Regions from separate parts of the Homo sapiens genome. Here region 2 is linked to region 1. Evidence: fine-mapped expression QTL. A gene starts in region 1. The other region holds a variant in brackets. All regions are shown on one strand. Distances are from middle to middle. Region 1 holds the start of DBN1 (drebrin 1). Region 2 holds the start of FAM193B (family with sequence similarity 193 member B).

The links.
Region 2: its variant is fine-mapped to the expression of DBN1 in whole blood (INTERVAL, PIP 0.97).

What each region holds. Positions count from the first base shown.
Region 1 is chr5:177,464,962-177,477,409 of GRCh38, reverse strand. DBN1 (drebrin 1) reads left to right here and starts at 3,776. Exons shown (of 15, transcript NM_001363541.2): 1 at 3,776-3,974; 2 at 8,511-8,566; 3 at 9,190-9,302; 4 at 9,593-9,667; 5 at 9,783-9,929; 6 at 10,078-10,155; 7 at 10,348-10,499; 8 at 10,575-10,638. The coding sequence starts at 3,889. RefSeq lists silencers at 3,539-3,588, 3,599-3,978, 4,059-4,258, 4,289-4,658, 4,578-4,764 and enhancers at 3,913-4,414, 4,415-4,918, 6,489-7,034, 8,127-8,672, 8,673-9,218 and 1 more.
Region 2 is chr5:177,549,904-177,557,903 of GRCh38, reverse strand. It overlaps FAM193B (family with sequence similarity 193 member B), which reads left to right and starts at 3,341. Exons shown (of 9, transcript NM_001190946.3): 1 at 3,341-3,655. The coding sequence starts at 3,446. It overlaps FAM193B-DT (FAM193B divergent transcript), which reads right to left and starts at 3,276. Exons shown (of 3, transcript XR_941274.3): 1 at 2,975-3,276. RefSeq lists a cis regulatory region at 474-920, enhancers at 3,083-3,232, 3,253-3,412, 3,139-3,642 and silencers at 3,523-3,732, 4,063-4,172. The variant C/T (reference allele first, on the strand shown) is at 4,001.

The DNA.
Region 1 (12,448 bases):
CGTCTCGCCCTGTGGCCCAGGCTGGAGTGCAGTGGTGTGATCTCAGCCCACTGCAACCTCCGCCTCCCGGATTCAAGCGTTTCTCCTGCCTCAGCCTCCTGAGTAGCTGGGACTACAAGCATGCAACACCAGGCCCAGCTAATTTTTGTATTTTTAGTAGAGACAGGGTTTCACCATGTTGGCCAGGATGATCTTGAGCTCTTGACCTCGTGATCTGCTCGCCTCGGCCTCCCAAAGTGCTGGGATTGCAGGCGTGAGCCACCGCTCCCGGCAAGGGAGGCTTTCTTAATGGCGCCAGCGAAAGTCCGAGGGCCAACGCCCATTGGACTAACTTGGGTCATGTGTCTGTCTCTGAAGTAGTCACTGGGTCTGACCCTTCCTGGCTTGGACGACATACTCCTGTTTAGAGCTGAAAGTGGAAAGTCTGCCAGAAAACGGGAGGCGGAGCAGGCCTGGCAGGGAGGTCCATGGCACTTCCTCCCCTCATGCCCAGGGCCCCGCCCCCGACTCCACTCCCAGACCTCAGAGCTGGAGCATCTGCAACTTCTGATCAGACTCCAGCCCACCTCACCCCTGCATGCAGAAATAGGGGTGCTACAAGGGGAAGCGGGGAGGGTGTGTGGGGTACCGAAATGACCTGGGACAGACCTGGGTTCCCATTCAGACTTTGTGTCTGAATGGGACACAAAGCTGTGTGTCTCCGGGCAAGTCACTGACTCTCTCTGGGCCTCAGTATTCCCATCTGTAAACTAATAATAACAATCAACACATTGACAGCACCTACTATGTCCTGGTCTCATTTTAAGCACTTCCTAGATACTTTTTGAAAATCCTCAAACTGACCCTAGGAGGTAGGTACCATCACTATCACCCCCATATTACAGTTGAAGATGAGTGATTCAAGATAGGTCAGGCACCAAGCTCAAGGTCACACCATTAGCAATAGACTCCTCAGGAGCAGAGCTAATGTGAATGAACGTGGCTGGCCCGGCGCCGGGGGCAGATACCTGGGAACAGCCATGAGCTTTGTGATGATCAAGGGGCAATCTGTGTGTGTGCTTGGTGGGATCTTGCAGAGGTTGGAAGAGGCCAGAGAAGACTCCACCAGCTCTTGCTGAAAAAGTCTTGCAGCCTCCCCTCAGCCCTAAAACCTTCCCGGAGAGGTGTGGGGGAGCACAGAACAGGAAGGTGGGGGTGGAGGGAGGAGGGTGGGGCTGTGAGGAGGGAGGGAGGGAGGGGGTTCTCCTTCTAAGCCTCCATCCAGTCCCATTTTATTCTCACAACAGGTTATCAAAAGGAAACTCAGAGAGGGGAAGTGTTTCAGCCAAGGTCACACAGCAAAGGCCCAGTTTCTGGATCTCAGTCCTCCCTTGTCTCATCTTTTCCACTCTGGGGATCCAGAAGTCATTGGCCCAGCCTCCCGCTGTGTGTAGGGGGAGCTCATGCTCTGGGGGTGGGAGAGACCGACCTGTCAGTGACTTGAAGGGTGATCGGTTTGGGGGTGGCAGACACGAAGTCCTGGTAGGAGGAACCCACCAGCCTCCCACCCACCAAGGCTGAGTGTGTGGGCTTCAGGGGCAACAGCAGCTGAAAGGAGGCAGGTTCTCAGAGGACAGTGACCAGTGGCCACCCACTCCCACCAGTCAGGGCAACTGAGAACTATGGGTCCACTGAGTTTGGCAAGTTAGGGGTTACTGGTGACCTTGGCCAGAGCAGTGCCAGAGAAAATGCGGGGAGGAGGAGACAGAGGACAGATGTCTGTCTGCATCCTATAGAAATGAGGGGATGAAGATAACCTGGAAGGGTGACGGGTGCGGAGACCAGGGGAGTGGGCTCTAGGGCATGCCAGCAGGGAACACCCTTGCTTCCCTGAAAATAGGGAAAACTGAGTGCAGGGTGTATGGGAACTCTCTATACTATCTTTGTAACTTTTCTGTAAATCTAACACTGTTCTAAAATAGAAAGTTTATTTAAAAATGTTGATGGCAAGAGGTGAGAGTGGGCGTGGCTGGAGAGTTTGTAGGTGGCTGGTGGGGAGGCAGGAATTTGAGGAAGGAAGAGCTTAGATGCATTTAGGGCTTCTGTTTTTTGGATGCAAAATTGAGTGTGCAGGAGGCTGGGGGGTGAGGGGAGCGGGGGGGGCGAGGAGCTGTGAGCTAGGACAAATCAAAGGAAGCTGGAAGAGGCTGAGGCCACAGATGCTCATGGCCAGCCATCTGCTGCCCCTCCCCGGCTGCAGGGTCTCCCTCCTCACCAGAATCAGGCTCTTCATGCCTAAGGGTGGGGGATGGCTGAAGCTCTGTCCCTCCATGGCTCTCCCCACTTCCCTTCCCCACCATGTGTCACCCACTCCCTTAGGGATCCCCATGGCAGGCCAACCACACCTACTGGCCAGTTGGTCTAGGGCACAGGGCCTGGCTGTGTCCCTGCCTGGGTGCCTCACTCTAGTGGTGGCCATGGAGAAATTGCCATGGCCTGTGGTCCCTAGACATAGTGGGCACTGACTTCCCAAGGCAGGGGCCTGTGAGTATTTTGAGTTTTAAGAGGGTTCTCCCAACTCCAAAGCGCCAGGAACACTGCCACATAGGCAGCCCTGCTCTCCTTCTCTTGGCATAGCCAATTACCCAACGCAGAACTCGGAGGCCTGGCTAGAACCACCTCCTCCTCCGCGGTGCGGTTGGGACCAGGTGAAGTTTGCTCAGGGAGGTCGAGGTTGGAGGCTTTGTAGTGGTGGAAAAGGCTTCTAAGCGCTGTGGACGGTTTCAGGGTCCCAACCTAGCAAGGAACGGAGTTCTGGAAGGCCCTGGCATGGTGTCCACTCCCTTGCAGGGGGTACTTTTCTGAGGCCCCCTCCCGTTCTGTGCTTAGAGCTTTAGGAGATAAAGGTGCCAAGAGGCTGGCCCTGAGCGTCCTTGGAGGAGCCCTGCCGTGGGAGTCTGGGGTTAGATGCTGCTTCCGGAACTCTACTTGGGACTCCTCTGGGAGGCGTGAGGCTTGAGAGAGAATGCAAAGGATCTCCTAGCTGGCCCCATCTGAGAGGGCACAGGCGTGGAGGGGAGGAGAGGCCTGGAATGGAGGGATAATGAGCTGGGTAGGGGCTGAGAATGGCCTGGAATAAGTGGTCATGGAGCCGAGATGGGGGGCTGTGGTTGGGAATTGGGAACTGGGATCAGGATGAGACTGGGATGGGTTGGACTGAAGATGTGCCGTGACACATGTTGGGGGGGACACGTGCTAAGCATGGGGCTGAAGCTGGGATGGGAAAGCAACTGGGGTGGATTTGAGGGTGGGATGCAGATGACAGTGGATATGATGGGATAGACTAGGCAAGGACCTCTCAGGGAAAGGAGACGGGCCAGGGGTGGGGTGTTGTGTGAGCTGGGTTGGGATGAAAATGGGTTTAACATGAGGTGGGACGCACCAGGAATGGAGATCAATGAAGCAATGGGTGGGGCGGAACCGGATTGGGACGGGGGGTGGGCGGGGGGAGGTGGGGACGGGACTGGGTTCGGGGCTGGAAGGAGGGCTAGCGCCGAGGTTACGGACGGGGCAGGTGAGGGTTCGGGACGTGGGTGGGGCTGGCCCTGGAGCGGCGCGCAGGGGCGGTGGGTGAGGGGCGCCCGGGGCAGGCCGGGAAGGGGGGGCGGGCCTCCCCCTGGGCCGGGCCGGGGCGGCGCTAGGACCGAGCGAGCGGAGGGAGCGAGCCGGGCGGAGCCAGCGCCCCCCGCCCCCCGCCGGCCGGCTCCCCTCCCCCGGCCGCTGGCTCGCTCGGCTCGCGACGCTGCAGAGGCTCCGAGGCGGCGGCGGCGACTCCCTCTTTCCCTCCCTCCTCCTCCGTCCGCCCGTCCGTCCGCGCGTCTGTCCGTTCGGCCCGGTCCGGCCCGAAGCATGGCCGGCGTCAGCTTCAGCGGCCACCGCCTGGAGCTGCTGGCGGCTTACGAGGAGGTGATCCGAGAGGAGAGCGCGGCCGACTGGTGAGCCCCCCGCCCCCGCCCCCGGCCCCTTTGTCCCCGCGCCGCCGCCGCGCCTTTGTTTCTCTCCCGCCCCGCCGCCCCGCCGCCGGGAAGGGAGGGGGACCCCGAAATGGTGCAGCGGGCCGGGAGGGCCGGGAGGGGCTGCCTTTGTGCGCGCCGGGGGAGGGGCCGGCGGGCCAGGCGGGGCACTGCCGGGCCCCGAGCGCCCGGAGGCGGCCCAAGGCGCGCGGTGGGAGCGGCGGCCGGACGCGGCCCGGAGGCGCGGGGTCCCGATGTGGGGCCCGGGGCCGCGTGGCCCTGCGGGAGCCCATCCCCCACCCTACCCCCCGGGCCCGGGGGACAGGTGTGCACGGGGCGGCCAAGGGCACCTTCGCCACCTTCGAGCGGGCGAGGTCCGGGCGGGGACGGGGCGGGGACCGAGCTAGCGGAGCCAGCGCAGCCTGCCCGGCTCAGCCCGGCCCGGCCACAGCACAAAGGAAAGCGAGGGCGGGGGAGGAGCGGAGCGGGCTGGGGGCCGGGCGCCCCGCCCACCGGGGGGCCTCTCGGAGTGGGCCGCCCTCCCCCCGAAACCTGGGCTGGAGTGAGGTGGAAGGATGTTTGCTGCCACATGGCGACCGCGAAGTGACTCCCTTACCGCCGCGGGTCGCGGAGGAGGCAGGGGTGAGCTCTCCTCCCCTACCTGAAGGGGACTGCGGGGACTAGGCAGCTGGGCTGGGGGGCACCGAGCTGCCTAAGGGGCCAGCTGAGATCCCTGGGAGGAAGCCCTCTGGAGAACAAGTGTGGAGGGAGCCCCCAAAGACGGCTGAAGGGGTGAACAGATCCACCGGCCCCCAGCAAGGGGCACTCGGTCCCTGATGGGGGAGGAGCTGGGCCGCCCCTCACCCCGCCCCCCAGCTGTTGTCTCCCGCTGAGCTGGGGGAGGGGATGGACCACCTGCTCTGGGGCTGGCGGCCCAGGGTGGTGGAAAAAGGAAACCGAGGGGTTCCTCACAGCCCCATCCTGGAATCCTTTAACCCCCCCGTAATACTCTTCTTCTAGGGAAGGTGCCCATCTGGTTCCTAGGCCTCCTCTCCCTGCTGGCAGATGGGAACAGGTTCTTCTTGAGGAAACTGAGGCAAAGAGGAGGGCAGGTCTGAGGGACCCCGCTTGGGCTGGCCTCACCCGCACACTGGGAGGGCAGCCAGGTGGGGACTCTGACCTGGGGGCTTCTGGAGGAGAGGATGAGATGGCTGGGCATCCATGGCATGGTACTGCAGCACTGGCCAGCAGCCAGGCCTGGAGGGATGGACGCGAGAGACAAGCTCTCGTGTCCTGCAGGTCAGTCACAGGAGAGGCCGGCACAGGCTCAGCAGGCAGGCGGCCCACCCATTGTCCCAGCCCTGCCCCAGGGGGGCTGAGATCATGGGAGGAGCTCTGGGCAAGTGGCCGGCTTGGCCTGGTGAAGGAGCTGGCTTTGGGATAAGGCCCCGCCTGGGGAGAAGCACAGCTCACCCCAGAACACCTCCTTTGCCCTCCAGCCTGGAGGGGTGTTGTCTACCAACACCCCATTTTCTCCTAAAAGCAGAGCTCTGGTGGCCTATTGCCAAGGCCACACAACCCCTGTTGCCCCACATCCTGCTCAACACAGGCCTGCCCCCACCCACCCCAGCAGCATCCGTGTGGCCAAAGCGAGTTATTCATCACTGGTGTGCGTCAGCCCCCATCTGGGTTGTGTGTGGGACACACACAGATGCACACATGTACCCTCGCACATGCACACATTCGTTCACTAAGGGCCCAGATAACATTTTGAAAAAGGGGTGTGAGGATCACTTTCTACACAAGAGAATATGAATACCCCAGGGCCCAGCATGGAACCAGGGGTGCAGTGAGGTCTGAAGACTCAGAGGCAGACCCTGCACATAGGTCCAGAGGGAGGGGTGTCTTGGGTAAATTGCTGTCTGCCCCCCGACCCTTACCTTGCCTCCAATGGGGAGGGGTGGTTGGGGGAGTTCACTCCTAGGTGGCAGGGCCTCTGAAGTGCACCACTACTCTGGCACAGGGAGCAGGGGACCCAGGAAATGAGGTTGTGTGGTGGGAAGGGCCACTGTTGTCCTGGTTGTGATATGACTCACTGTGATCATACACAAGTTCCTGGTCCTCTTGGAAAGAAAAGGGATTGGGCCCAGCACTACCTCGGATACTGAAGGCCTTTCTAGCACCACCATCCTGAGAGTGATGGTCCTGCGGGGTCCACCTGCCCTCAGCCCCCGACTCCAGCTCACCCTCCACCCCAGCTCACCCCCCATCCCAGCTCACCCCAGGGTCTCTGGAACTGCCACATTCCAGCTCCCACCTCACGCTAGTTCAGTTTATCTGGCTAGATGGCTTTTGAGTTGGTGTCAATATCACACATACTTCTGGTATGCGGTGTGCTGGACCCCAGGACCCAGAGAGCAGGATGTGCTGATTGACTGAGTCAGCGTTCCTGCCTTCACCAGGCTTACAGCTGGGGGCAGTGTCTGTCTCCAGGAGTTGGAGCTGGTGAGATGTGTAGATGCCTGGTCGCCTACCCCATCCTGATTCCCTGTGGTTTCGCCAGCTTCCACCTGGTGCACCACCAGGCTCGGGGTGCCTCTGATGTGGTTGAGAAGCACTGGTCTTTGTATTCCTGCTGGGATATGGTGGGTGCTCTGGGAGGGGCAGCTCAGGAGAGGCTGCTGGGGGCCAGCACTGGGCTCTGAAGAACGGAAGCATTCCACTGGGAATAGGCGTGGGGTAGAGGAGCAGGTCTTGCCTTCCACGTGAAGAGAACTACATAGGCAGAGGCTTCAGGGTGAGCCCTGTCCAGAACCCTGCTTGGGTCAGGGAGCCGTCCAGTGTGTCCCAAGTGTGTGGTGTGGACAGGGTGGTCCAATGGAAAGGCAGGCTGGAGGGTTTGAACTGGGGTATGGTTTCTGCTGGGGGAGAGCTGCGGCTGGAGCAGGAAGAGGTGGCCGGAGGTGGGGAGCCAGGGGCTGAGGATGGAAGGCACCCCGGGGAGCCTAGGCAGGCCAAGACAGGTCCTCTCAGAGGGAGGCTTGATGTCTACAGCAGTCTCTAGGAACTAGGGTCCCTGGGCTCTGCATTAGTTTCTCATCAGTGCATGGAGAGAGACAGAGCCTGCTTCTCCCAGGGCCCTTTGTTCCCGTGGTGGGTTAGGGCAGCAGGACAGGTGGTGGGCCAGCTGTGCTGGAAGCATCTGTCAGGGCCAGGCTGGGGCTGGGGGTAACAGTTGGACCAGGAGCTCCCAGCCCCACAGCCCACCTGTGTTCCTTCCTGGAGGTAGGAAGCCGGGAATCCAGGAAGGGGAGGGGCTGAGGCCATTTGGCCCTGGCCACAACCTCCTGAGACGTCCCCTCCATCCCTCCCGCCTTCATTTCCTTTGTCCCTTCACTTCTGTCCTTTCTCTTCTTCCTCCTCTCCTGGTTTCTCCCTCTGCTTCTCCCCTCCTCTTTCTCTTCTCCCTTGCCCTCCCTTTCTGCCTCCCCTCCTCACAGCCCCAGCCTCCTGCCTTGGCACCTGGGGAATAGGAGTTTGGAGAAGGGGTTGAGAGCCCTTTCAAACTTCAGGGACAAGGCCCTTCCTCCTAGGCCCCGGCTCTCCTCCCTCCCAGAGGGTCCTCAGCCTGGGCCTGCATGGGGTGATGGAGGAGGCATCTCTGCCTTCCCTTCTGTGCAATGGTTGCTCTGTCACCGCAGCCTATCAAAAGGAGCCAGGGCACACAAAGCTAGGGAGGAGGAGGAAGGAGGAAGGCCACCAGGTCAGCTTTCTGTTAGAGCTCAGACAGAAGGAAAGGCCAGCAGTCTCAGGAAGCCTCAGCCAGGACTGAGGCAGCCTAGGGGCTGGAAGGCCTGGAGCTCAGGCTTGGCCACCCCGGGGCCAGAGTCTGGGCGAGAGTGACTGCAGTGACCTCATCCCCATTTCAGAGAGGCGGAGATTGAGGCTGAGGGCGGGTCCCCAGGGTCCTTTGTGTTCAAGGAGAATGCAGTTGGGGTGGGCCAGTCGTGTGCCAATTGCAGGGTTGCCATGGTTACTGGGGGATGCCCAGAGCTGTTGGGAGCACCAGGTTCTCTCTTCTCCTCCTCCCTCCCCGGGGGAGGGGCAGCGGGGACCAAGGCACGTGCCAGGTAAGTTCCTGGCACTAGCCAATGGGGGATGAGGATCCTGGTAGCCAGGGAACGGTAACCAAGGAACCGTCGCCTTGGAATCTCCATCACACACCCGCTCCACTGGGTTGTAGGCTGCCAGGGCCAGGGCCGGGATGCTGCGCACTGAGCTCGACCAGCCAGCAATTTCTCCCCTCACTGCCTGCGCCCCCCTGACCCAGGCCTCCAGCAGTACCCTGCTGGGCTCCCGCCTGAACCGATGCCTGGCCCTGTTGTCATGGCTACAGCAGGAGCCCTCCCCGTTCCTGTCCTACCCACTCCATGTCCCTCTCCCTCCCCAGAGCCGTCCCCACCCAGAATTGGCGGCCTGGGCCCTGACAGTTTGACAGCCACCCCTCCCTCTCCCCAGGGCTCTGTACACATATGAAGATGGCTCCGATGACCTCAAGCTTGCAGCATCAGGAGGTAGGAATTCCAGCCATTCCCTCGCCGCCTTCTCCACCCCCTCCTCCTGGTTGTTTTCTTCCCCACCCACCTGGCTGTAGGCCACCTCCCTGCCTGCACCCTGCAGCCCCACACTTGTCTGGATCTGGCGGGTGTCCTTCCTCCAGTCATCCCTGTGTCCCCAGGGTGGGGAGGAATCTCAGAGCCTTGTTGAATGTTGGACTTCTGAGGCTGAGCCTCCAACAGGGAAAGTGACTTATCTGAAGCCACACAGCTGGGACACTTTGGGGGAAGGGCCCTATTCACCGCCTTCCCCAGAGCCAGAAGGCTTGATTGTGCCTCTGGGCACTGGCACCTGGTGAGACATGATGATGTGTGAAGAATGAGACCTGAGTGTGAAGAACAAACACTTCCTCAGTCCTACCCCCAAATCAGGCCCTGCAGGAGTCACAGGCAAAGCTACATCCCTGTGCGCCACCACCCCCACACATACCAACACAAAACTGGGACCCACAGACCCCAGAGGCCAGAAGACCCCTGGGGGTGCCTGTGGAGGCCTGGAGGAGTCTTTGCTTTGAGTTCCAGGCTCTTTTTGGGAAGGGTTTAGGAGGCAGAGAGACCTGACACTCTCCTGATTACCCTAGAAGGGGGCTTGCAGGAGCTTTCGGGACACTTTGAGAACCAGAAGGTGATGTACGGCTTCTGCAGTGTCAAGGACTCCCAAGCTGCTCTGCCAAAATACGTGCTCATCAACTGGGTATGCGGCCGGGGCTGGGGAAGGGGGCTGAGGGCCCAGAGCTGCTCATCAACTGGGTATGCGGCCGGGGCTGGGGAAGGGGGCTGAGGGCCCAGAGCTGCTCATCAACTGGGTATGCGGCCGGGGCTGGGGAAGGGAACTGAAGGCCCAGAGCAGTCGCCCTCCCCGTCGGCCCTCTGACACCCGTGGAGAGGGAAGCCCACCCTCTTCCCACCCCGGGGAAGATGCACCCTATCGTGTAGGGCCCCCCTTGTCCTTTCCTGACCCCCTCTTTGCTGGGTACTTTGCAGGTGGGCGAAGATGTGCCTGATGCCCGCAAGTGCGCTTGTGCCAGCCACGTGGCTAAGGTGGCGGAGTTCTTCCAGGTGCGTGTCAGGGGCCAGCGCTCTTGGGGGTGGGGACAGCCACCAGGGTCTGCGTGCTGGGGTGGGGATGGCGGGAGGATGGTGCCGCCTGAGCACTGCCGTCTTCTTGCGGAAGGGTGTCGACGTGATCGTGAACGCCAGCAGCGTGGAAGACATAGACGCGGGTGCCATCGGGCAGCGGCTCTCTAACGGGCTGGCGCGACTCTCCAGCCCTGTGCTGCACCGACTGCGGCTGCGAGAGGATGAGAACGCAGAGCCCGTGGTTAGTGTGTGTTTGGCACCCGTGGGCTCTGCCTGCGTGGCCTGGTGCCCGAGTCTGGCCTGCCCGGTCCCTCTTAGCTCTCACCCTTTAGGTGTCGGGGGTTCCTGGGGCATTCAGCCTGCTTATGCTGGGTCCTTCGACACTGCAGGGCACCACCTACCAGAAGACGGATGCAGCTGTGGAAATGAAGCGGATTAACCGAGAGCAGTTCTGGGAGCAGGCCAAGGTATGGAACCCTGAGCCCGGCCTGGCTGAGCCACCCCTCATGGACCCCATGGGGCAGGTCTGAGTCCCTCACTGCAGTGGCATGGCCCATGCCACGTGCCCCGCCCCCAGCGCTGGGTTAGGGAGGGGCTGGAGGGGCAGGGTCCAGGCGCCTAGGCTCGGGGCCTACCCTTGTTCGCACCGGGGCTTGCAGAAGGAAGAAGAGCTGCGGAAGGAGGAGGAGCGGAAGAAGGCCCTGGATGAGAGGCTCAGGTTCGAGCAGGAGCGGATGGAGCAGGAGCGGCAGGAGCAAGAGGAGCGCGAGCGGCGCTACCGGGAGCGGGAGCAGCAGATCGAGGAGCACAGGTGAGCCTGCCCGCCCGGAGCGCTCCAGGGGCCCCCGGGCGCACCCTGACGGGTGCTGGCTGCTTATCGTTCCAGGAGGAAACAGCAGACTTTAGAAGCGGAAGAGGCCAAGAGGCGGTTGAAGGAGCAGTCTATCTTTGTAAGTTCTTTGCCAAGGCTCCCGGTCTCTGGGTCAGGGAAGTGAGAATGGTCCCTGTGTTCCTGGGCCTTGTGGGGAGATCAGTGGCTCAGGGACAGTGGTGGCTGTTCTGGGGAGCTGCATGGGCACAGGGTGCCATGGAGCATGAGGCCTGGCACCTCATCACGTGGGGCTCTGGCCTCTGGCCGTGGAAAAAGACTACTTTGGAGAAGCTTGTGCTCTAGATTGGAAGAGAAACTCCATCTAGACCCAGACCCTCACTGACCAGGCTCCCCCTCCCCTGCCCTGGGGTTTCTCGGCGATTAGACACTGTTCTGCACTCTGAGGGGCCACAGGAGTGAGGCAGGCGGCATGGGTGAGCCTGGGCCAGTGCTGAGCATCTGCAGGCAGTGTGTACCATCTCCTTGGGAGCAGCATCTCCCTGGGAGCAGCCCCTTTGTTCCAGGGGTACTGTCTGAATCTCCACACATTGGGAATGGCCCGTAGGTCCTGTGGATTGGTCCCTGAGAATCACAGCAGAGTCACATCTCCATGCTTTGAATTTAGTATTTTGGAAATAGCTAATGTCATTCAGGACTGAGCATGGCTCAGTTCAGGAAGGGAGGTGGGTTGATACTCATCTGGATTGGGACTGTAATGGGCAGATGCATGGCTGTGGGGACTCAAACGGGCTCCGGAGTCACCCACAGGAGGCTGAGAGAGAGGAGGCAAGACAGTCCTGCAGGCAGCAGCATTAAGTCACTCCAGTCACATCTGCCCTTGGATGGGGTGGGGATGATGTGTGGCTGGTAAGCTCCATCCTCAGTCATTCATTCAACACACACCTGCCACCTGCCACATAAAGAACATGGTGGAGAACGAGCTGGGTAAGATCTTTTTTTCATAAGTTGATTCATGTATTTTTTTTTTTTTTTTTTGAGATGGAGTCTCACTCTGTCGCCCAGGGTAGAATGCAATGGCGTGATCTTGGCTCACTGCAACCTCCATCTCCCAGGTTCAAGCGATTCTCCCGCCTCAGCCTCCTGAGTAGCTGGGATTACAGGCGCACACCATCATGCCTAGCTAATTTTTGTGTTTTTGTAGAGACTGGGTTTCACCATGTTGGCCAGGATGGTCTTGAACTCCTGACCTCGGTTGATCTGCCCGCCTCGGCCTCCCAAAGTGCTGGGATTATAGACGTGAGCCACCGCGCCTGGCCACATGTATGTAACTGTGGCAAAATACATAAAATGTACCATTTCAGTCATTTTAAAATCTGCATTTCATTAAGCGGCATTAAATTCATTCACATTGTAGGATAACCACCACCACCATCCATTAAACACAAATTCTGCCCTTCCCCACTCGCCAGCTCCTGGCAACGACCATTCCACTTTCTGTCTCTATGAAGTTGACTACTCTGGAGACTGCCTATCAGTGGAATCGCACGGTGTTTGTCCTTTTGCGTGTGGCTTATTTCACTTAGCATGATGTCCTTAAGATTCATCCATGTTGTAGCATGCATCAGAATTTCCTTCTTTTTGAAGGCTGAATCATATTCCATTGTATGGATATACCACATTTTATTTATCCTTTCAGAGTGAGGTTTTTTAAAATTTTTTTATTTTTTAAATTTTTTTGAGACGGAATCTCGCTCTGTCGCCCAGGCCGGAGTGCAGTGGCGCCATCTCAGCTCACTGCCAGCTCCGCCTCCCAGGTTCACACCATTCTCCTGCCTCAGCCTCCAAGTAGCTGGGACTACAGGTGCCCGCCACCACGTCCGGCTAATTTTTTGTATTTTTAGTAGAGACGGGGTTTCACCATGTTAGCC
Region 2 (8,000 bases), 83 kb before region 1:
AATTGGACTCAGCACTGAGAGTAGATAGGTCAGCCAGCCTCAGGGAGGAGACAGTCCAAATTGCTGAGCCAGTTTTCTCATGCAGCCATTGAATAAGTTCTTAAATAGCTGGGAAGAGACAGTCTGACAGCCACAGAAGGGGCCATACTGCCCATCGGACTTTTAAGAGGTTCTTTTGATGAACGTTCATCTGGGACACAAATAGCCTTATGTTCTGAAGCCATTCTGGACAATCTTTCCACATCTGTCATCCTCAGAACTTCCTGTCACTAAGCCTGCAGTCTTTTTTTCCCTCAAGTCCCTCAACAACAGAGTAAATCATGATCCAATGGCCAGGAATTGATGTGTCTTTATTTCAGGGTCTTTGCGTGGATTTCCCTTTTCTGTGCCCTTGGGCCCTGTCTGAGGAAGACTAGAACACTCTAGCAATTTGCTTCTGGCTGGAGCCAGCACACCATGCAGAGCCATCTGCAAACTGGACTTTGGATTTTTCTTCCTTAGTCAACTCATCATTAAACCGTTCATGAAACCACTGATCCAGGTTGAAGGATGGAATGGAGAAGAGGGTGGCAGCAGAGGAATGTAAGTAACTTGCTCTGGCAACCTACTTGTGCTTTAGGACTTGCATGGACCCAACCCACACATGTCACTTCCTCTCGATGACAGGGTGTTGCTGAGCACCCCTGATTTTATGGCTGAGTAGATCAGATAACACTCAGTTCAGGTCACGTGGTCACCTAGTAGGCCAGGATCAGGCATCCAATTTCACCAGACCCCTGAAGCAAGCCAGGAGCTATTTCTAAAATGGAATATAACTATTTGCTGAAGGAAAGCATAAGTTTGCTCCAAAATCCAATGCTTGAGTATTAAGACCAAAGCCAGAACTATTTACTCTGCAGCCTGGTCCACTAAGAAAAGTTTCTCTTTTTGTATGATCCTGCCTTAAAGTTGGCAGCTTTCAAGTGACCCAGTAACTGGTCAAAATAACGTACCTAAGTACAGGCCGGGCGCGGTGGCTCATGCCTGTAATCCCAACACTTTGGGAGGCTGAGGCCGGAGGTTCAGGAGGTCAGGAGTTCGAGACAAGCCTGACCAACATGGTGAAACCCTGTCTCTACTAAAAATACAAAAATTAGCTGAGCATGGTGGTGCGCGCCTGTAACCCCAGCTACTCCGGAGGCCAGCAGGAGAATCACTCAAACCCGGGAGGCAGAGGTTGCAGTGAGCAGAGATCCCGCTACTGCACTCCAGCCTGGGTGGCAGAGATTCCATCTCAAAATAATAATAATAATAATAATAATAATAATAATAATAATAATAATAATAATGTATCGAAATACATCTATGTTACCTACCAAGTCTAAAGAAGCCCCAGCCCAAGTATTGCACCTCTTCCCTAGTAGGGAGTGTGATCTACAGCAGCTTTCCCTTCACTTTGTACGAAATATCTCAACATATCCCAGACTCCTAGATGGCTTACTGCGAGGCCCCTATATATTTGTGAGATTTATTATCCATCCTCTGGCACACACATCATGCCTTACCAAATCATCCAGGATATCTGCTATTCCCTTTTCTTAAGGTCCATCAAGATGATGTCATCAGTGCCTCAGCAGATTAGCCTGATATCCATTAGAATGGAGATTTAGTAAAAAAAATCCCTGTAAACTGGCAGGGTGCAGTGGCTCCGCCTGTAATCCTAGCACTTTGGGAGGCCGAGGCAGGTGCATCACCTGAGGTCAAGAATTCGAGACCAGCCTGGGCAATACGGGGAAACCCCGTCTCTACTAAAAATACAAAAAAATTAGGGGGCGTGGTAGCATGTGCCTCTAATCCCAGCTAATCTGGAGGCTGAGGCACGAGAATCCCTTGAACCCAGGAGGCGGAGGTTGCAGTGAGCTGAAATTGCGCCACTGCACTCCAGCCTGGGAGATAGAGTGAGACTCTGTCATTAAAAAAAAAAAAAAAAAAAATCCCTGTAAACTAAGTGGCTGGGTCCAGAGTGTGACATACCCTGAAGCAAGACAGTGAGGGTTTACCGCTGCCCCTGCCAGATCAATGCAAGGGATTCCTGGTGTTTGGTACAGAAGAATAACCATTGACCAGACCTCTTGTTGCCTATTAGAGACCAACAACTGTGCTGATCTGTCCCAAGAAGGACCGCATCTGGAAGAATGCCTGCAGTTGGGGTTCTTACCAGAATAAGTAAGTTTATCATAATGCTCTGTTGTTCTTCAAGGCCGTCTCTCTTCTGTTCTGGGCAAACTGAAGAGGTAATGGTGATGTGATGGGACTCACCCTGCGTCTTTCAAATCTTTGATAGTGGCATTAATCCCTGGGTGAGATAAGGTACTATTTTTGATTTATTTTCTTGGTAGTTAAGGAGAGCTCCAGGGCCTTCCATGTAGCTCTTCCTTTCAAAATAGCCCTTGCCCCATGGGTTAGGAAGCCAGTGTCAGGATTCCGCCCCTGTTGATACCAATAGCAACTCTGCATATAACCACAATTTCAGAGTACATAGCCCAGGCATGAGACAGACTTCACTCAAAACTTTTTTTTTTTAATCTGTGCCATGTACATGTATTATACAGTATATTCACAAAAAGAGGGGGGAAATTCCATTTTTAACAATTAAATACATAATTATTAAGTTTTAAAAATTCTCCTTTGTGTACCACTCCAAAATCCTCTCCTGCACATACTATTTTTTTGGAAACACCTAGTCGTCTCATCGTTATCACACCGGTTGTAACTATGTACCTACGTGTCTACCTTCCCCATCAGACTCGGGAACAAGGAGTCGGGTTTGAGTCCCACTGTCCCAAGCACAGAACGCTGGACTCCCAGTAGACCATATGTTGCAAATAAAGACCTTCGTCCCTTTCAACTCAGGCCGTCCACGAGCCCAGGAGTTCCAACAAAATGATGTACAGCAACCTTTTCCAGGCCTTTATGTTGCCTCAATATTTCTCACCTGCAAAATGGGAATGATCCGTACCTGCCTCGCTGTGCTGTCGGAAGGAGTCAGACGATGGGTGTGAAAGTATTGTAACACTATAGAAATTAATTCACTCATCCATTTAACAGGCAATTATTAAGTGCTAGGGTGGTGCAGCGCGATTACCACCGCATTACACGCGTTCCTCCAGCAGGTTGCATCCTTCCCGTCCCGCGTAGGGGGGGAAGGGCGTCTCCCCACCAAGTTTTTCTCCCAGCGAACTCCGGGTGGTGACCTTATTCAAAATGGCGCAGGCGGCCTCGGGGGCTAGTGCGGCGGCGCGGACTCCGCGTGCCCTCTGACCTGTTGGCAGCAGGCGGAGGGGGGGAACCGGGCGCCGCCATATTGGCTGTTGTCCTGTGAGGGGAGCGGTAGCGGCGGCGGCGGCGGCGGCGGCGGCGGCGGCGGCGGCGGCGTGTGGAGCGAGGGAGCGGCGCGAGCGGCGGCATGACGCGGAGGCGGAGCAGGCCGAGCGGCGGTGCGGGCAGGCGCGAGCGGGCTCGGGCCGCGGGGCCGCAGAAGCCCCAGGCGCCCGAGCCCCCGCCGCCGCCAAGCCTGGAGGCGGGAGCGGGTGCAGGCCCTCCGGAGGCGCCGGCGGAGCCCGACCACGACGGCCCCAGGGAGGATGACGAACCCAACCTGGTGCCCGGCCCGCAGGTAGGAGCGAGCGGGGAGACTTCGGCGGCTCGGGCGCTTTCACCTTCCCCGAGCGGGAGCGGGAGTGGGGCGGGGTTGGGGATGGGCCATCCTGCCGCGGCTGGGGTAGCAGCCTTCCCCCGGGTCCGGCGCCGAAGCTTTCTCCCCCGGGGCGGGAATGGAGGCTGGACCCCTCTCCCCAAAGCCGAGGCTCGGTCCGCGCTCCTGCGACTAGGCTGAAGCTGCTCCCCTCTCCCCGCCGCCTCCGGGCGTTCCGGCCGTACACCCACACTGGGACTGGGACTGGGACTGGGCTGTGATCCCGAGGCCGCAGCTCCGCTCTCGGCCCGCCACCTCCCCCGGGCC[C/T]ACCTGCTCCCTCAGCCACAGGCCATCTCGGGGCTCTGGGACTGGACGACTGCAGCCTCTTCCCTCTGCCCCCGGGAACGGCTCCACTCCGTCCCCTGCAGCGCCTGCAGCCGCGGCCCCCTCAGCAGCTGTGTCTCCTGGCGCCTCCTCGCCATACCCAGCAGAGCAGTTGGAGCAGACAGCCAGGCTGCCCGGAGGAGTTTTTGGTGGGGTTTCTGCACTGAGGTGGAAACCCAGCAGAACCTGCCCTTCTTCCCTCCCCTGCTCCGCAAGGCAGCCCACCCCGACCTTGAGATCCCAGGTTTGGAGAATCCTGCTGAGAGCGAACAGTAGGAGGATTCCCCAAAGCTTCCAGCTTGCCACCTGGAAGAAGGTCACTTTCTTTTGAGCAAAGGAGATAACGGGAGGTACCCTGCCAAAGTTCACTGAGAGGCGGGGGTGACATGGGCCACGGTTGCTCTGGGAGGGTTGTGGCACTCGGGGCTGGGTGGCTCTCCCTAAGCTTGCTCTGACAAAAGAGTTTTGAGTTGGTCTTTTGGCTGAGCCTGCCCAGGAAGGCAGGCTCCTGCAGGAGTCTTGGAGGGTCGGATGCGGCGCCGGATGAGGATGAGGCGTGGCGGAAGATGCGTTTGGCTCTGCAGACACTGCATCGGGCAGCAGGGGACTCTGGGAGGCTGGTGCAGCCAGAAGGCATGGCTCTTGACAGCCTTCTAGTAGAATCTCTGGAATTGTGCATGTGAGTGGGGTTGCCGTTTGGGGTACCTTCCCACAAAGCCTCCCCTGACCTCCCCAGTTGCGTCAGGTGCCCTCTCTGTGCCCACAGCCCTCTGTGCCTCCCTCTGGTAGCACTCCCCTTTCTGTGATGAAACATTGTGTTGATATGTCTGTTGCCTGCCCTGGACTGTGAACTCCACAGGGACACAGGCTATGCCATCTTTCTCTGATCTTCCACGCCTCGCCCAGGGCCTTGCTAACACAGAATAAAAATAACTAGGTGAATGAGAGAGAAAATGAATCGGTCCAGAACCCGTGCTTATTGTAACCCAGTTTTCATGCTGATTTCCTTTGTGTCTCAGATCACAATAAGGTTTTTAATTAATGAAAATGTCAGCACTTACTGAGTGTCAGAAGCTCCACCTTCATCCGCATCCCCATCTCCTATCCTAGGCTGACACTTCCGTAGGAGACTCCCCAGGTTGGACCCCCAACCCCTACTGGGTCTAGCTTCCAACCCCAAAGCTGCTTCCCCCACCAGCCTACTCTGGGACCCCCGTGGGAGTGCTGTTATCCAAAAAGGGAGAGTGGGAGAAGGGAGAGCTGGAAAGCTGTTGTCTTCTCTTCTTCCCATTCAGCAGACCATAGAATACTTCAGGGTCTCTGCCACATAGAGATGCCAAAAAGCTTGGATGATGGCTCAACCATTCAGTTTTTATTAAGGACACAACTTTGCCAAGAGCTCTAAGCTTCATCAATTTCTTTGACATCTAGGTTCCTACCATGTTCTTACCTACTCCACTACTTGACCTGCTGATTCATTTATTTGTGCCAGGCACTTTACATACCTTACTTCTAATCTTCCCACCTCACCTGTATTTCTCCGCAGCGTTTAGCACAAATATGATGAATTGACCATTGATGTGATTATTTGTTTTTATTTGTGAACTCTGCGAGTTCAGGAGCCATGTCAGTCACCATTGTACCCCTGTGCCTGGTGGTTAACAAATATTGATCAACAAACTGGAGGATATAATTATCATTACTCCATTTTTCAGATGAAGAAACAGAAACTCAGAGCAACTAAACATTTGCCCAAATGACTCCAACTGTAGGTGTCAGACAAAAGAAAAGAAAAGGACTTTTAGGTACTTTGGGGGATTTTCAACAAGGCATTTTTTTTTAAACTATAGCCCCAAAGAAGGGAAACAAACTGGTAAATTCGGTTCTAGTTATGCCCCACTTTGACCGGGGGTGGGGTCTGGAAGCAGGCTTTTGTGCCCTGGTGCAAAGCACCTAGTGTAAGGGTAGGGTTCAGTCATTGCTCTGCCTACAAGCGTGTTTTTGGTGAGGAACTCTGGCTCCCATTGCCACTCATAACCCTGTCTTACATCTACAGAGTGGATAAGGAAGATGAAACTCAGTGTCATATACCAAACTGAATCCAAAGGTGGCAAATAAGACCACTTCCAGTCCACAGGCTTGTTGTAATGCCCCAGCTCACATATTGTTTTGTTTCTGTTTTTATTTTCATTTGAGCCAATATTTTAAAGATCAAAAGGTTTCCCACACATTTGGATTTGGGGCTCTTTTTTAAACTAAAGATATGGTGATGCTGGGTCCACTTTTCCACAAGGCAGTAATCAGTAGTCTCTGAGTAGCATTTGGCCCTTTTAGACAGCGTATGCTCCTTAGGCATCTTTGGTTCTTTCCAGGCCCCTTCACTCATTGGCATAACCTGTACACATTTAAAGCAGGACCTTGAGTTTAATTGGGATCCCAAATGGCTTTCAATTGTTTCAGGCCACTAAACCACATTGATCTGTTTCCTAACAACCCAAATCCTCGTTTATAGCACAAGAAGGCTGAAACAGTTACTACCTTATTAGCAAAGGAAAACAAAACAAACAAAAAAAAAAATAAAGAACAACTGAAAAAGCAATTGTAGGAGGCAGTGGGGAATAGTGTTTAGAGACTTGGATTGAATTCCCAGCTTAGCCTCCTAGCTTTGTGACTCCGCAAGTTGCTTCTCTCTGACCCCATCAGGAACTTCACAAGAGGCCTTGGTGGCTCACGCCTGTAATCCCGGCACTTTGGGAGGCTGAGGCAGGAGGATCTCTTGAGGCCAGAAGTTTGAGACCAGCATTGGTGACATAGTGAGATCTCTGGTTCTATAAAAAAAAAAAAATCAAAACTTAGCTGGGCATGGGTTCACACCTATAGTCTCAGCTAGTTGGGATGCTGAGGCGGGAGGATTGCTTGAACCCAGGAATTAAGTTACCCAGGACTTCATGTGCACGCCACTGCACCCCAGCCTGGGGGAGAGAGGGAAACACCGTCTCCTTTTAAAATAATAATAATACTTCACAAGAGAAGCAACCTATGCAGCAGCTAGTACATAGAAGCGCCTCACCTAAGAGAGGGGGCAGGAGCTGTGCCAGGTGGCCATACAAAGCCTGAGTGTTCTGGCCTGTTAGCTCTGCTAGCTGTCTTTCATCTCTCTTGGACCACTGAGTTTGTAATCCAGTGTACACTCAATAAGCCCCCAGGAGACTTGCTAGGATGTAAGCCAGCAGTTGGTGAGGAGAGGTGAACTCATCCTACCCTTCCCCACCTCTTGTTCCCTCCACATTGTCCTCTGGGACTTTGCCCAGTCTAGTTTAAAGGGACTCTAGAGATCCGATTCTTCCACTGTTCCCTCAAGAAATTGGAGCAGATGATTAGTCAGTATCTTTAATAAAAGCATCTCATTATGTTTAATTCACTCAGCAGATACCAAAACCACCTCTGTGCCAGGACCTTTATTTGGGGTGCACAGATGGATAAGATAGTTCCTATCTTTGGGGACCTCCCCCTTAGAATCAGTGCCTACCCAGCCTGCACTACTTCCATTGTCAGTAGGAGGAAATGATACTGAGGGGATCCTTGCCACCTCTGGTTCTTCTTTGTAAGCCAGTAGAGACTCACTATATAAAAATGTCAAAAGACCTTTGAAAATGAAGACTTACCCACTTAGGATTTTAATTTTTTTTTTTAATTTAGAGATAGGATCTTGCTATGTTGCCCAGGCTATCCTCAAACTCCTGGACTCAAGTGATACTTCTCCTTAAGCCTCCCAAATAGCTGGGACTACATGTGCATGCCACTACACCCAGCTGAGTTTTAAATTTTTAATTTTTGATATCAGATGGATGATCCTAACACCTTTACTTACCTCATCTAGAATTTTTTAGAGCAGGGTCTATGTTTTAATTTATTTGGGGGGAAATATATTGTGTGTGGACCT